Linked DNA regions of Homo sapiens: region 2 is linked to region 1. The links come from fine-mapping of genetic effects on plasma protein levels. Region 1 holds a variant in brackets. A gene starts in the other region. All regions are shown on their reverse strands.

Region 1 (2,856 bases):
GACTCCAACCTCCAATACTCCCCAAGGGCATCAACATGGCAGAAGAATAAAAATTAAAGATACAATGCGAAGCATAAATTATGTTCTACTCAATTCAATGGGCCAAGGGGATGGGAGGGGTGTCACGTAGTCTCGCACCGAACACACCAACCAATTCATTCCCGCGCATTGTGCAGGGACAGGGACAAAGCCATGACAGGTCACGGCAGTGTATGAATTTAACAGGGGTGTCAGAGTGGAGCTTGGTTCCATGGAAGCTTTCCTATGGTATAGATTCTAATGTACAGGGAAAGGCAAAGGGAAGAGTGTAACTGTTTTACACCAAGAGAAAAGCTAAAACCTGCACACTTTTTGAATAGAAAAATTATGATGAAAAAGTATCATACAGATTCAACAATGGATGCAAAAGGGGATCAAGGGCAAGAAATGGAACCTGTTCACACTATTTGCTGACTCTGATATTTAGCTAGTGATCACCACCAGATGCTGGGGCTACAGGACCAAGGGTATGTAAGTACCATGTGCTAACCGACTGCACCACTGGAGCTCCATACGACCAGGGATACATAAATGGTTAACAGAGAAAAGTTCCAAAACGGTCTAAGTCTAACTAACTGAAAACCCATACATCTTTATGACCCAGTATAGTGACCACATCATGTGTACTTTTGGAAGAGTAGCATTTACTTTTTAAATTAGGATCTGATATTAAATGTATCTGATGCGTGACTCATGAATGTTCAGAAATAACATGGGATCAATGAAAATCGAGGACAGGGAAAGAGGGATTCTGCTAGGGAAATGTATGTCCAACATTTCCTTTTCGTCGCATGACATGAGCAGGAATAGACAACCCTGCATTGGAGGCAGTGCCCAGGAGGAAGCCCAGTACACATGATTCAGGTGGGGTCCAGAAAGGGGCCTGGCAACGGGGCCCAGGTTTTTCACCAACACAAAGTCACGCATGGATTTGTAGCCACTCCTCTTTGCTGGGGACCCCAAACCTGCTCTTAGGAGCCCTGGCCTTACCTGAATG[G/A]AGATTGTAAGGCAGGCAGTACTTGTACCCAGAACTGGATGGGTTGGGCAGAATCCCATTATTGGGACCCCTAAAAACCAGGCAGGAGTTAAGTCTTTATGTTCTGCAAACAGGGAGCTGCTGAAAGTTTCAGAGAAAAGAAAAAACGTGATGAAAAAAGAAAACAGAACTCAAGCAGATCAATCTGACAAACTTTGGGGTAATGTATTGCAGGGCAGGAAGGAGACACAGGTATAGCTTGGAGCCCAGAAAGGTAGTCAGAAAAAAAGCTACTTGGGAATGGGGCTCGAGAGGCTTGGAGAGAGAGATGGAGAAGGAAACAAGAGAACCAAAATACATGTCCGATGAAGAATGCACAGCTTAGGTGACAGATTCACCACAGAGAACTAAGGAACGGGCTGAGTAAAACAAGGTGAGTGGCACAGACAGGGAAGTTGGAAGAGCAAGGTGATTCTACATGCTGGGTGTGAAGTGAGAGCACAACATCAAATAGAAATAGGAACAGACAGCCAGAAACCCGAGACAGGAGACGAAGTGATAAGACAGGACAAAAAAGGTAATCCAGGACAACATCGGCATAGGGAAAAATTCCATTTTTATGAGAAAAGACTTAGAAATAAACATCTGCTTTGTTTTAAGGGCATTTTTTAATAAAGAGAAATGTGCTGGAATGAGCAAGAAATTCAATGCTATTGTTACATTTCATAAGCTATCTTCAAAAACAAAACAATAAAAAACAAAAGGTTTTTCTTCTAAAAAGTATGCTGATTATAGGGACAAAATTGTTTGCTTTCTTAAGAACGTAGTAGATATTAAAGGTAAAAACAAAACAAAACTAAAAACCTTTTTCTTCACATTTGCTCACCATGGGTCATTAAAATACTATTTCTGTTAACTTAAAAGCTGGTAAGCTTAGTTCTCCCCTTTCGTCTTAAAGTTTACAAATTCTGTAAGCAGGTTTAGATCGCAAATCATAGGAGAATCAGCGGAAGGGACTTGGATCCTGGAGAACAGAGGAGTTGGGAAGAAATGGCAGCTATGTTCAAATACATACAGGACTCTCACAGGGCAGTTTTACTTAGGGGAATCAATGAAGGACTCAGAGATGTGAATTCTTATTCCTAACACTCAGAGCTGTCCAGAGATGGAACTTACTTCAGGACAGGCAGTCAGGAAGGTCTGTGGAAAGGACTCCAGCACTGGATAAGTAGATGGACTAGACAGCCTGGCAAAGTTCCTCCAAACACAAGAGTCTGGTAACATTCTAAAGTCTGATAGCCTATATGATGATTTAGCTGTGTGAGTGCTTAAAATCAAAACGCCTTCGGCAATCCCACATGAAGCTCAGTTTAAGAGCCTCTGAATGTTCAGCTTCAAAAGAGAGGGATGAAAGATCTCTCTCTATGCTATCAAGTGTTAGTGGAATTAACTAACAAATAAAGTCATTATTTTTCCCCAAGTAAAGGATAGTTTGGTATACACACCAAATTTTGTTGTATGCTTCTAGGCATTCCGGTTTAACATTGTGAACTGAAACAAAAGAAAATTCAACGATAAACTTAGGAACAAAGGGGAAAAAAAGTCAACTATGAAGATAGCAAACCTGTCACTCACACTGTAATTTGTATAGATTGCTTGTTTCCTTTTTGGCTAGGAGATTGGAGTGGGCATCTTTTCTTGGATCAACTTTCCGGACAAATAAGGATTTTAGCCAGCTGTCTTCTCGAGATCTGTTGCTGGAAGATGTCCATGTCCTATGGAATAACAAAGGTGTTGTCACGCAGTATACTGTTTTCATATATCCATCAGTTAATCTGGCA
Region 2 (2,902 bases), not on the chromosome of region 1:
GGGACTAGCACCATCCCTGTTTTGTGACAGGAACACTGAGGCTCAGAGAGGTGCATTCCTTTGTCCGAGATCACTCCCAGAGCCCCAGTGTACCCGACTCCAGATGCATAGTACTGAACCGGTTCCAGACACCAGTGTGTCACTGGGCTGGGAGGTGGGCAGCGTGGAGGGAGCATATAGGGCAGGGGAGACCACCGGGCGGAGAGGATGGCCCAGGGAGCACCCAGCTGAGGAAAGCAAGAAAGACTTGGCGGGAAACCCCAGCCCTCTCTCATCTCATACCCCGGCCCCGAAGGCGGCTGAGACCCTTGACGAGCGGACGGAGAAAAGCCAAAAGCCGGCGGTGGGGAGCAGGAGGGACAGAGCGGGAGACCACAGGCGAAAGACCAGCGCCGTCGGGGGAGCCAGGCTGAGTACCTTCCTGGGCACAGATGGGACGGCGCGGGGCCACCGGCGGTGCTGGTTCCGGGCGCACTCAGCGACCCCGGCCACACACCCCAGCCTCCTGGGCGGCCTCGAAAGGGGCTGGAGGGCACGCCCGCCAGCTCTGCCCGGGGCTCAGGGAGTCTTCGAAGACTTCTTCCAACGGTGGCGGACTGGGGCCCCCTGCCTGAGAGACCACCCGGAGACTCAGAGACAGAGAGACAAAGGGAGACTGGGTCAGGGAGAGAGAAGGCTAGTGCCGAGGAGAGTAGGTGCGAGCCGGGACCCCAGAGGGCGGCGAGGGCGCGCGCGAGGCCGAGTGTCAGAGCGTGGAAAAGTGGGCGTCCAGCGGTAGGTGGACGGATGGGGAGCCCGGGAGCAGAGCCAGGGTCCGTGGGCAGACGCGGCGAGGAGAGGAGGCGGCGGAAGGACTGGCGGATAGACGGGTCCGAGGGCTGGGAAGGAGGCAGCATCCTCACTTCCAGCCTCGGGACCCCGCGCACCCCGCCCCTGGGCGCGCCAGGTAGCCCACCTTTGTCCGGGCTCGCAGCCAGGTGGGGCGGGAGGGGCGGAGCCAGGGGCGGGCCGAGGCCGTGCCTTACCTGTCCGGCCGGCGGGTAGGGGGAGGAGGGGCTCGGGGCCGAGCGCCCGCGGGAGCCGAGCGCAGCCGAGGGCGAGCCGCGGAACGGGGCCGGCGTGGAGAGGTGCGCGGGCAGCCGGAGGATGTGCCCGGGCTGAGCGGGACTGGAAGGAAGGGGGAGTGGGCGGGCAGGAGGGAAGGGGGCGGGAGCGCGGGGAGGGGACAGAGGAGGGGCGGCGGGTGGCGGGCTCGACTGCCCCCAGCCGAGGGGCAGCCCCGGGGCCGGGCCCGGCGCGCACCCGGCCAGCGCGCCCTCGCCAGCTGCGCTCTGAGTTCTGGGCCAGCTCCCCAGAGGCCTAGGCGCCGCCGCCGCGAGGGCGCGGGGCAGACAAAGGAGGCAGACAAAGGCGGGCGCAGCCCAGCAGCCGTGCGGGCACCGGGCGAGGCAGGCCCACTCCTCCCGGTGCGTAAGAGCCGCCTCGGCGCGGCCCAGGGCGCGTGGGACGGGAGGGGCTCCGGCAGTTGTGGCGCCTCTGGAGCGGCCCCGCGCAGGGCGGGCGACAAAGGGCCGCGGCGGGCGGTCCTCGGTGGACCCCAACAATGGAGCGAGGCTGCGCGCTCAGCTGCGGCCGCGTCTGTCAGGGCAGGGGCCCGGGGCCACAAAAGGATTATTCCGCCTAGACTGTCAAAAGGGACGGAAGAAATGCCCAGGGCGGGGGAGGCGGGACGGGGAACGGCGGGGCCTTTGTAGCCGCAGAAAGTGCGCAGAGTGGGCAGGCGGGGTTCTCCGAGAGGTCGCTCCTGGATGTAGGGGTACAAAGGGTCTTCAAAGTGCTACCAGCTCACCTGGGGCGCTGACGGCGCACCTGTGCCCTCTTTCCCGGTAGGGAAGGGAGAAAGACAACCGCCCCAATACACACACACACAAACACACACACACACACACTCACACGCGGCGCGGCTCTCGCCACGCCCCGTCCAAAGCCGGCCTGAAGCTTCTCAGACCGGCCCAACCCGGACAAAGCCAGCGCTGGGGCCGGCTCATCCATCACCGCGCGGGGCGCCGTGTCCTGACGACCCTGGGAGTCTGAGAATGCTGGGTTATGGGTCCCGTGCCTCCCATAACTCACGACGGGGTCGGTGGGGCCACGGACGCTGCAAAGATCAAAGAGCGATGGGGCCGGACTCCCATATGTGGGAAGCAGCGCTCCCACCTGGCGCCCTGAGCTCGCCAGGTGGCTTCCATTTCGACTGTTTTCTTTCTCCAGCGTGTGGCAAATTATGACTTTGAGGTTTTAGAACACAGTTCTGCCGTCAGGCTAAATGTCTGTGTTCCTCTTCTGATGCCGTCCCCTATGACCTCGAGCAAGTCGCCTGACCTCTGAGCTCATGATTATACCTAAATTTCAGTGTTCTAGGCGTGAATGCAGTGCCCTGTGTAAGGAGATAACGTTTCTAAGGTCTGGCCCATAGGAAATGCTCCTGTAAAATTAGCTGCCATTGTTACCGTGATATTATTAGCTTGGTGGGCACCAGGATGGATTGATGAGAACACTGAACTGTTTATTCACTGAAAGGTTTGAGTCATCCATCCCATAAATACCTATTGAACACCTACTATGTGCCGGCACCGGAGGTACAGTAGTAAACAACATGGACAAGAATCCCTGCCCCCATGGAGCTCAGATTCTAGTGAAGGAGACAGAAGATAAGTGAACAAATAAATATAAATGATGTCAGGTGGTGATTAGTGCTATGAAGAAAAGTAAAGCACATTACAGACAAAGCATGAAGGGACGAGGTGTTGTTTTACATAAAGTTATTAGGAAAGGCCTCTTTGCTGGGGCAGTTCTTTTGGCAAAGAAAAGGAGGTAATGAGCCACGTGGTTGTGGGGAGAA

Which allele goes with the higher level. Alleles are on the strand shown, and positions count from the first base shown. The strength of an association depends on the size of the effect and on how common the allele is.
For the plasma level of the protein whose gene starts at base 1,169 in region 2, G is the low allele of the variant in region 1 and A is the other (weak association).

What was found. A credible set is the group of variants that fine-mapping cannot tell apart. PIP is the chance, under the fine-mapping model, that this variant and not a neighbour inherited with it causes the effect. The UK Biobank Pharma Proteomics Project read protein levels with antibody pairs (Olink). The fine-mapping took linkage between variants from a reference panel, not from the people measured, so its PIPs are less certain.
Region 2: DRAXIN starts here. The variant in region 1 is the best candidate, but not a certain one, in a credible set for the plasma level of the DRAXIN protein (UK Biobank, PIP 0.59).

What each region holds. Positions count from the first base shown.
Region 1 is chr7:55,978,060-55,980,915 of GRCh38, reverse strand. It overlaps NIPSNAP2 (nipsnap homolog 2), which reads right to left. Exons shown (of 10, transcript NM_001483.3): 2 at 2,651-2,790; 3 at 2,521-2,566. Among named protein-coding and RNA genes, the nearest start is that of NIPSNAP2, 15 kb to the right of the region's middle. The variant G/A (reference allele first, on the strand shown) is at 1,037.
Region 2 is chr1:11,689,977-11,692,878 of GRCh38, reverse strand. DRAXIN (dorsal inhibitory axon guidance protein) reads right to left here and starts at 1,169. Exons shown (of 7, transcript NM_198545.4): 1 at 1,026-1,169. It also overlaps a transcript of MAD2L2 not described here. RefSeq lists enhancers at 1,854-2,361, 2,362-2,871.